3 linked regions of the Homo sapiens genome follow. The protein of the gene in region 2 purifies or fractionates together with the protein of the main gene of each other region. This does not show direct contact. Each region holds a gene or a part of one and is shown on either strand. Other genes may lie near its edges.

Region 1 (3,658 bases), on a different chromosome or scaffold from region 2:
TCACATATTAATATTTAAAATATGTGTACTAAAAATCATCACAATTCCTCATGAGTCAAAAAATTTACCGCCACCATTTATAGCCAATATATTTAGGTCTCTAGGGGAAGGCAAAAACACAAAGCACTCAAGGTCTATGCTATAAGTTCTATAACGTAGTGTTAGAGCACTTAAAACACAGAGGAGAAAGCAATGGGAAAAACAGAAATGTTATACTATACTAGGTATATAATTCATCTCAATATAGTAAGACAATTGAGCCTAATTCCTAAGAAGTCACGTGGCAGTATACAGATAAAAGGCTGGGTTTCATTCCTATTTCTGTGATTCTTGGTGAAACTTTATTATTAATATTTTAGGTTCACTATGTAAAGAAACACTTTACGTTCGTTATCTCACGAGTTACTACATCATACTCATATTACAAATGAGGAAATTAAAATGCAAGGAATGTCAACTTGCTCCTAATTACATAACTAATAAGTGCTGGATCTCAGCTTTAATGAGATTAACATTCGCTGTCTTCATGGATGAGAAGATAAGTATATACAATAAAATACTCCATTCGAGAATTATAATACATACAGTATTCATAATGTTCATTGGAAACCTAAAGATGAATTAATTTAGGACCAGGGGCAGTGGCTCAGGCCTGTAATCCCAGTGCTTTGGGCAGTTGAGGTAGTCGGAACACTTGAGGCCAGGAGTTTGAGACCAGCCTGGGCAAAATAACAAGATCCCATCTCTAGAAAAAATTTTTAAAGAATTACTTGGATGCGGTGGTGCCTGCTCTGTAGTCCTAGCTATTCAGATGGCTGAGGCAGAAGGGTTGCTTGAGCCCAGGAGTTAGAGGCTGCAGTAAGCTCTGATGGCGCCGCTGCACTCCAGCCTGGGCAACAGAACAAGACCCTGTCTCTTAAAATACTCTAAGATTTCATTTACAGAGAGAGAGCTGTAAAGATACTTAGTAGAGAAAATACTAATATGCATTGAATTATTAATATAGTATTTCCACATTTGAATTATTAATTTCTAAGGGTCAGGAAAGCATGAGAACACTCCTAAATGTTTTAAATAAAGGTTTTTCAATGTTTCTCTTGGGTAACTTTACTAAGTGATTTTAAGATATTTATAGTTTTACTGTCTTACAGGGAGAGGTGAATCAGTGTTATCCTGGATAGATGCAGCAGACCTCTATTTTGAGTTTTCTGAACCTCCTCAGCAACTGTTCTTGAAATAGATAATCCCGCACTCATGTATTCAAGTCTGAATACTACCACAACCTCCCTTTCTCTGTTCTAAGTTTTCACAAGGCAAAAGTTATCTTGAATTACTAGAATGAACAACATTACATGAGAAATACATTCTCATATTTCTAATATGCACAACAGAGATAAATGCTTTCTCAAAAGATATGCTATATCTTTTTGTTCAGTGACTAAATGCTATCTTTCTCTGAATTACAGGTAGTATTTACTAACTCACATTGGGAAGTACTTCATTTTCGTAATCTTACACAGCATTGCTGGGAACCAGAAAAGCAGGAGAGAGAAGATGAAATATTAAACAGATAGTTACATTTAGTTTTCTTAGAGTAAAAATGTCCTAGGATAGCAGTTTCCAAGCTATGTGTGATAAAATCAATTTGGTGGGTCATGAAAAGCACTTAAAAACAACGAAATAAAATAGAAAAAAATAAATAGAAAAAGTAATACAAGCAACATAGCAAGTTTACTGTCTTATGAAATGTTGATTTCGGCTAGATGTATTTATTCCTATGTGTGCACTAAGTCACAATATAAAATGTACTTCTTACTGAGGGCCCTGGTTAAGAAAATGTGAAATCCCCTGCTGAGTGGATCTATAAAAATAGAGATAGTTATTAATTTTTTCCAATATTTGGCTTTTTGACAGATAACAATTTAAAAATAAAAATTATAAGTCACCTTATTTCTCCCTAAATATAAATTTTGGTATGTTTTAAAATCTTAAATGTATTAGAGAAATAAAAAACAAAAACAAATCCCCATCTATACAATTATGCCAGAGAAAGAATTTAATACATACCATGACAAAATCTTAGCTAGATTATGTATTAGAATCTTCAAATATTGTTTTTAGTTATTTTGATTACTTTAAATTTTACTAATATATTTATGCTTTATTTAACATACTTGACTGAAATGCAGATGTCCACAATTACAGCATTACTATTATTGATATTACTCTACTAAAAGGCTGAGTTTGATCTGGTAAAGCAGAAAGGATGTTTAAGAAATTAAACTTCTCTCTGTCAGGCTGAGAATAATTTTTAATGATATGAACCACAAGTGTCAAAGTAACAAATGAAATGGCAATATATAATATATGGCATATTTCTGCACACCATTAAAATTTCAAGATAAATTTCCTACATAAACACAATATCTATACATTTCCTTTAGTAACTATTCAGTCACCATCAGTTTTACCTTGTTTGAAAGTCTGCTCGTATTCAAACTCTTATTACTCCAAAAAAACTTAGAGTACTTAAAACTCTTTTTACAACATAGGCCTGAAAAATATAAGTGTGTAAAAAAACAGTAGGTAAGAATAGATGGAGAGAAACAGAAAACAGGGAAAAATCAAAACAGAAGCAAAGAAAACCCCAGAGTAAGGCATACATGCTCCCCTAGGCAGTAAGGTTCTAAAGACAATGACTAAAAGAGAACTGAAAAGAAAAAAATACCCCTGAAAAAAAATTCCCTTAAGTACAGTGTACTTGGTTTTATGTAAAGATCCTTGCTTAAAAATATGTACATATACATGCATAATATATGCACCTTATTGTGCCATATGTAATTTCCCAGAACTTCACACACAGAAATTAAATCACTCAAGTATATTGCTACTGAAACTTTAGCAAATAGATTCCAACTTTGTTGGCTCTTCCTGTTGGCTGTGAAATCCAGTGATTTTTCTTAGTTCCTCTACCTCTTCCTTAATGTTTAATAATTTAAATTATTTTTGCCCTCCATTAAAAAATAAGTATTAGTATAATTATTCCTTATTGTAGATTTTATTGATACAATTATCAAATCTTAACTAGACAAAATTGTGGGTCACAGGCTGCTGATTCTTTAAGGTTCATATTAAACTTGACCCCTTCCCTCATCACCCCGGCCAGACAAAAGTGCTCTCACAGAATGTTAGAGAGGAAGAGACATCATCTCCTCCAACTCCAAATTGAGCTTTAAAAATTACAATCCTGGAGTGGCAAAAAGAAAACTATATACTGTAACCTGTAATTTTACAATGCAGCCAAAACAAAAGTTTCCTTTTCAGGAAAAACTTCTGGGCCACATAAAGTGATTCACTGTATGAAGTTCAGTTATGCAAGATAAGTAAGTCCCAGACATCTGTATGGTAATAGTACTTCTAGTTAACAATACTGTATTGTATAAACATTTGCTAAGAAGACAGAACTTATGTTGTGTTCTTACTACAAAAAAAATGAATGAATGAATGAATGAATGGATAGATAAATAAAGCAGGGGGAAACTTTTGGAGGTGATGGATAGTTTTACAGCATTGATTGTGGTGATTTCACAAGTGTATGCTTATCTCTAAACTCACTGAGTTGTACACATTAAATATGTCTGGCTTTTTGTACATCAAT
Region 2 (3,658 bases):
GATATGGTCCCCGCCCTCATGGAGCATATAGTCTAATGAGGAAAACAGACACAAAAGTAAATCACCAAATGTATAATTTTAATAGTGGTATATTCTGACTCATGACAGTGAGATGGCTCTTGTCATGGTCATGACTTATTTCTATTATGAGTGACACTCAGATGACCCTAATGACATTACATACATTTTTGTATTTTTTTAATCACTGAAGCATAGGTGTATAATAAAATAAACTCAATGGCATAATTTTATTGCTACAGAACTGTAATGATTTTTGCAGTGAAGTATTAATACACTCGGTTGATTGCTAAAGTGAGTTATCCTGGTGTAAATTTTTATGTTCACATCCCTTTCCGATTTATCTTCTGGGGCTCTTAATGTTTTTCTTCCTAATGTTCTACAGTATCTTTTTTATTCTTATCTCAAGTGGTCATTCTGCCACTCAAAAACTGGTCTAAATGACAACTTCTAGCATTTTTGCCTGTTCATTCATAAGGACTATTTACTTGCACTTTTGGAAATACGGGGCAAAGACCATTGTGAAATGTACTATATTATTAGTAGAGATGTCATGTACATTTCAAATGTGCTGTATTTAAGGATGCTTCTCTGCATAGCTGACAGTTTTTACTTATTCAATACAAGTCACAAGTCACTGTGCTGAAGGCCATGAATAAAACAGTGAATAAACACCCAGAGCTCTGCCCTTGTAAACTTAAACCTCGTGATTGAACTCTTCAGGAATTCCAATAGACCATAAGTTTGAATGCAAGAACTGTGTTAAGAGTACCTTCGAATCCCTAGTACCTCAAACCAATTGTGGAATATAGTTGGTTCTGAGGGAAATCTGCATTACTCTATTTTTTAATTTTTCTTTTTACCGCTCCTTGTGGAGCAGGGCTAACTCACAAGCAGTGTGCCCAAAGTTGGTCTGTATTACTCTGTTTTCTTAAAAAGAAAAGGTTCTAGAGCTGAGTACTTACCAGTGAGAAAATTCCGCAGTCGTCCAAACTGTACTTCATATTGCTGGGGTTCTGCCTGGCAAGGGGCTGCAGACACTATGTTGGCACAACCAGATTCTGATTGCACTAAAGAGGAGAAGATACACAAGTCAGGGCGGGAAACAGAGAGACGATTATTAACCCAGTACGTGGCAGGATGGGTGAAGGAGGGTGTTGTGCACACACGCACAGCAACTGACATTTCAGCAGGTTTCCAAAGCATGCTGGGTCCTGGTTAAACATGACAGACTGATGACACTTGTTTCTCTCCCCTCCCTCCTGAAGCCCAATAAAATGAAGGCCAGGGAAGGAAAGGCATAAAGCACAGGATAAGGTGAATGAGAGAGGACAGGTACATCAATCCATGAGATTCATCAGGAAATGTTTGATCCTATGTTCTGACATTTCACAGGTGCCTTGGTGTGGGTTCATTGTCAATCACTGTGCTGGGCACTTAGTGGGCCCTTTCAATCTGGAAATTCATGTCTTCTAGTTCTGTGAAGTTTTCTGGAATCATTTTGATAATTCCCTATCTTCCAAGACTCCTACAATTTCAAGGTCGGATATCCTGAACCAATCCTTTAATTTTTTTCTCCTATTACTCCATTTCTTTGTCTTTTTGCTCTACTTTCTGAAAGCCTTCCTCACCCTTCAGCCCTTCTACTATTTCCCCCTACATTACTTATAATACCTAATGAGTTTTTATTTTTTACTATCATGTATCTAATTGGTAACTTTTTTCATTCTCAACATTCTCTTTTCCCCTAAACACGCTATGCTTTTTGAATCTTAAGTATTTAAAACAAGGTATTTTTGAAGTTTTCTTCTGTTTCTTTCCATCTGCCCTTCTTATGAGATATGTTTCTTCTAGGGTTCAATGGCCCCTGGCTGTCTTACGGTGAGGCACTCTGGGTGGTGAGGCTCATCCTCCAGGGTGACCAGGGTGAGCAATGTCCCAACATCACTGTCTTTTCGTCTTTCTTCTTGGGCAAGTTGGACTCACCAGGGAAGGATTGTTTACTTGCCTTCCTGGAGCATGTGTGCCTGGCTGCAGTATTCCGGGCATATGAATTGGTGCAGGGGAAACAAGGCTGGAGTCTCAATATTCAGTATGTAAACACACACTTAATCTCCAATCTGTGAGTTTATGCTTTCTAAAAACAAAAAACAAAAACCATTCTCCTCCTGTTTACAAGAGGAGTGGGGAACACCGGGGAAAGAAGGTGGCTAAAAACCAAGGGAAGCCACCTTTAACCGCGTCCTGAATGAAACATGAATGCATTTTGTCAATGGAATATGGATGGAGAAATGGTGATGAATGTGGCAGGACTGAGGGCGCCATAACAGGAAATACGTAGAAAGGGAAACACAGGTGAGAGGAAAGCCAACCTACTCCAGGAGAAGGAAGAGACAGTCAGAAGAGAGGACCTGCTGCAAGCCTGCATGCAAGGGAGGGACTCCTCCTCCTTCTTCTTGCCCCCCGCTTAGTTACTCTGTCACTAAGTCCTACAGATTCCTAAAATATATCCTCTCCTCTCCACTCCCATTACCACTTCCTCAACTGAGGCTGTCCTCACTTCTCACTGGACTGCGTCTTTTAACTAGTTTCCTCGATTCTAATCTGGGCTGCCTTATCAATACTGCCACCAGACTGAGTTTTCTAAAATTCACATTTGAAAACCTGGATACCCTCCTCCAATTTGTTCCCTGGTAAACATCTAATGGTTCCTTTGCAACTCAGCTCACTCTTTCAACTATTTAGTGACCCCCAACTATATGTCAGGAATCACAAGGCCTTTTGGGGATCCTTCCTTGGCTTGCCAGCCTAATTTGGATGATCTTTTCTGCTACCACTGAACCTCCCCCTCACAGAACTTACTACCTCATGCTCTTCTACAATCACTGACTTACCTGCCTCACTTCCCAATTAGAACACTTAGCTTCTCAGAGCTAGGGTCAAATCGTAGCTATCTCTAGAACTTTTCAGCACTTGGCCTATAGCAGATGTTCACTAAATGTCTGCTGAAAAAAGAATTCTTCAGATTACTCAATTAATGGAAAAATCTAGGACAAAATCTTCTGATAATCATATTTCATGTTTCTCACTTTTCCTGGTGGTTTTCCAGCAATAACACTTTCTCCTAATAAGCTATTCTATTGAAACTAAGACAACTTAGACGAGCAAAGTTCTGGAAGTCTGTTTAATATTGTTCATTCCTACTTTCTATCAACAACAGCAAGAATTACTGCTCTCTGGTTCCAAAGGATGCAGGGCAGCAGATTTTTTAAATGGCTAGGATGGCATGTTCAGAAGGAATTACTCTACAATGGGACAGAGGCCTTGTAAATGGACTCCCCTATTCAAACAATAAGGCACTTAGTATTCTATACCAAGGCCATCATCTGGCCCTGTTTTGGTCAAGGGTATCTCTGAGGAGTTTGAAGGCAAGGAATAATGGGTGGATCCAACCCTGAAATACGTGATGGCAGGCTGCTGACTGGGCTTCTGTTAGTGTTTCAGAGGAAGTCAGGAACCACTCCTTTGAGAGCATCCTCAGGTTGTTACTGTCCTAGCACTCTCTTCCTATGGCAATGAACCCTGGGTCCTTGACTTTGAAGGTATATGAAAAGAGGGAGCTGAGGTAACTGCGGCTACT
Region 3 (2,995 bases), on a different chromosome or scaffold from region 2:
CAACACATTCTCTCTCACAAAGGAATTCGAGCTGGCTGCAAGTACAGCTTCTAGAACAGATGTTCTTAACTTGTGGTCGACAGATCCCTGATGCAAAATTTTAAATGTGCATGACAGTTTTCTAGAGAGTATTCAGCTTTCTTTGTATTCTCAAAGTGATCCATGTCCCAAAAAGTTAAGAACCACTGATCTTAATTAAAGAGGGTTTGAAAGCAAACTGACTAGATTGACGCTCTGGCCATGGGTTGTGCAAAGAAAGCTTTTTATTTGAGAACACCTAGATACTTTTGGAAATGTTCTTGTTGGATCACAAACAACCTAATTGACAGTCTATCGCCAACATCCACAAACACAGCAAACAGTCCAGTCCTGCAGACCACACAGGGTACATCTAGAGGGTTCTACTTGCATCACCCACACTTCCACTCCTGTGAAACAACTGTCTTGGGCATGAGAAGGGCCAGGATAGGCCAGGTGAATGGCAGGCTGCCCAACAACCCCAATCCCAAACCAACCTCCCAGGCCATGGGCCCAAGTCCCTGCAGGAAGATGCTAATAGGTACAACAGGTAGAACATGTAGACACAAACATCTAGTTTATTTTTTCTGACTGTAACCAAAGTCAGCAAAAGAAACAACAAAACTTCAGTGCCCTAGAAATCCTCCTGGATTCAATGACAACACATCAATGGCCGGGCACAGGGTTGGATTCCTTTTATGAAATCACCTTATAATCTCTCATCATCCCAGGACAGTGCCTTTTGGGACTGCATGAATCTTTAATAGCTACACCACATTTTCTCATCCTTTAAGTTATGACAGACAGGTTATCTCTCTCCAAGAGCATCAGGTTAGATGCTCTTTCACTCTTACAAACTGTCAGGTGGAGGGAGAATCACGACATCATTCATAAATAACTGTGGAGTCTGGGATGCTGGCTGAAGGCATCTCCAGGAAGGACTGGAGGGCGATTTTGCTAAAGGGCTGCTCACTGCTCATTTCACTGCATGCCGCTTTTCTCACTTTGGTTGGGAGTTTGAAGGACCATGTAATCACAGAGATTAGAGCTCCCTGTGAAATCAATCACTGCCTTTAGATCTCCACAAAGACCTGTTCTCCAATAGCACATGCGTTTCTCTGTGAGCTGTATTCGCATCAGCGCCGGAGCCTCAGAAAGAATGCGTGTTTACACTCTGTACTCTCCAATGGGTAATATTTATCATAGAAATCTAATACATATTCTTCAGTCTTGAATCCAAACTTCTGGTACAGTAGCATAGCGGGGTTGCTTGCTGAGACGTGAAGGGTTACGTCCTTGCCCATGCAGGTCTGCCAAAAGAGTGGAAAAATACAAGATAAAAATGGAAAGGCCTGAGGGAAAATGAGTAGGTAAAGAAACGCTTTTAAGTGTAGGCAGTTAGTTATGGAAACCGGAGAAATCAGAGACTGAGGCTGAGACATTGCAACACCTAGCAACAGCTGGAAACAGAATGACATTTTGCTGCTGATCAAAACATTCACAAGACCAAGGAAACTGATAGTATTCTGGGTGTTTTTTATTTTTCTTTGAAGCAAAGGGTCAATGGGGATATTGTTATTGTCAGCTTTATTATTTACAACTCAATTACCTTTAAATATGTCAAACATTTCAATACCTAACACTATGATAACCTTGAATAAATACAAAACAAAATAAGTTTTGCTTTTTAAAACTAGATGTTATCTTGTACCTCCCCAAAACCTGTAAAAATTCCTTTACTAGGCCTGCTAAATTACATGCACAAACATGAAATATTAAGAATGTAATTATAAAACCTGAGGCCCTTGTATAGACCTTCTGAATCCCAAAGTCCACCTTCTGTCTCTCTAAAACTGACAGAATTAGCTTCTTAGAACTGAGATTTCTACATTCAGCTTTGACCTAATCTTAGGGGAAAAGAGTAACAATCATTCTATCAACACAAGGCAAGTCCTTAGATTCTTTAATCAGCTACACAGAGTAAGGTGTCCCAAAAGTCATATCATTTAAGAACTTACTTTTTAATAAAGAAGGCACTGAAATACTGAAGTTGATAGAGTCCTTGAGATTTATAACCCATGGTTCTCTCAGGCCTCTAAGAACTCCTCTGTTGACAGTCATCTGATAGCTACCTGCTTTCTCTGCTTAACTTCCATGTGTATCCATAGGCATTTTTAGGACAAGAGAGCACTTACCAGTATGCCAGGGACAAGAGCACTTTGTGAGTTTTTAAAGCAAATTTTGTGGGGTCATATTGGTGTTTGCTAGATTGCAAATATACGTGATCTCACCGTGGCCATCATTGAGTGCCAGCGACTGTGCGCCACCTATGTTTGGGCCCTCAGGGGTATGGTCTGGCTGGAGGGGAAGGTGCCCACCTGCAAAGATGAACCACTCCTCCAGTGGCCTCGCAAACACTCAGCAGGGACTGACTCTGTACCAGCCCTCATGTTGGGCACCAAGGACACACACACACAAGGACAGAGTACTATTCGTGCCCTGTCTTCAGGCCCTTACCAGTGACAGATACGGCAGCAAATCCTCTAAGTGCTCTCCTAGGTTAAAAAGACGCATACTGAGAGATCAACTCTTGGTTGGGATGGGGCAGAGAAAGGGAGTGTTGTAGAAATAACTGAGAAGCTCTCAAGAGAAAACCACCACCCAAAGTAGCACATATTAATTACTCAGTGAGTGATTTACATAATCACTGCCTAAGGAGAGAAGGAAAGCAATTTCTAGGAAAATGGTTCCAAGGTTCCTGCCAACATTTGGGAATTATTAAGCAAGTTTCATTAAAAATTGGAGAAACAACTTTTATCATCTTCATCTCCTCTTTAAAAGGAATCTTGCCTGCATAAACATATAATCCTCCATACCAAATGGTTTCTAAGTAAAAGTTGACTAAAAAAAATTCTAGGGGAAAAAAATCCTTGCATGTTTTTTGATGGTGATATATGGTGTATTTTCTTCAAAGGTG

What was found.
Region 1: the proteins of TAF5L (region 2) and RAP2A purify together in Homo sapiens (co-immunoprecipitation; one large-scale study listed by IntAct). This does not show direct contact.
Region 3: the proteins of TAF5L (region 2) and KAT14 purify together in Homo sapiens (affinity purification with mass spectrometry, with the first as the bait; one large-scale study listed by BioGRID). This does not show direct contact.

Annotation. Positions count from the first base shown.
Region 1 is NC_000013.11:97,440,664-97,444,321, reverse strand, and holds part of RAP2A (ras-related protein Rap-2a), read right to left. Parts: intron 1-3,658. UniProt on the Homo sapiens protein: Small GTP-binding protein which cycles between a GDP-bound inactive and a GTP-bound active form. In its active form interacts with and regulates several effectors including MAP4K4, MINK1 and TNIK.
Region 2 is NC_000001.11:229,609,123-229,612,780, forward strand, and holds part of TAF5L (TAF5-like RNA polymerase II p300/CBP-associated factor-associated factor 65 kDa subunit 5L), read right to left. Parts: intron 1,089-3,658; coding exon 984-1,088; intron 1-983. UniProt on the Homo sapiens protein: Functions as a component of the PCAF complex. The PCAF complex is capable of efficiently acetylating histones in a nucleosomal context. The PCAF complex could be considered as the human version of the yeast SAGA complex.
Region 3 is NC_000020.11:18,185,619-18,188,613, reverse strand, and holds the end of KAT14 (cysteine-rich protein 2-binding protein), read right to left. Parts: intron 1,329-2,995; coding exon 1,155-1,328; 3' UTR 579-1,154; downstream 1-578. UniProt on the Homo sapiens protein: Component of the ATAC complex, a complex with histone acetyltransferase activity on histones H3 and H4. May function as a scaffold for the ATAC complex to promote ATAC complex stability. Has also weak histone acetyltransferase activity toward histone H4.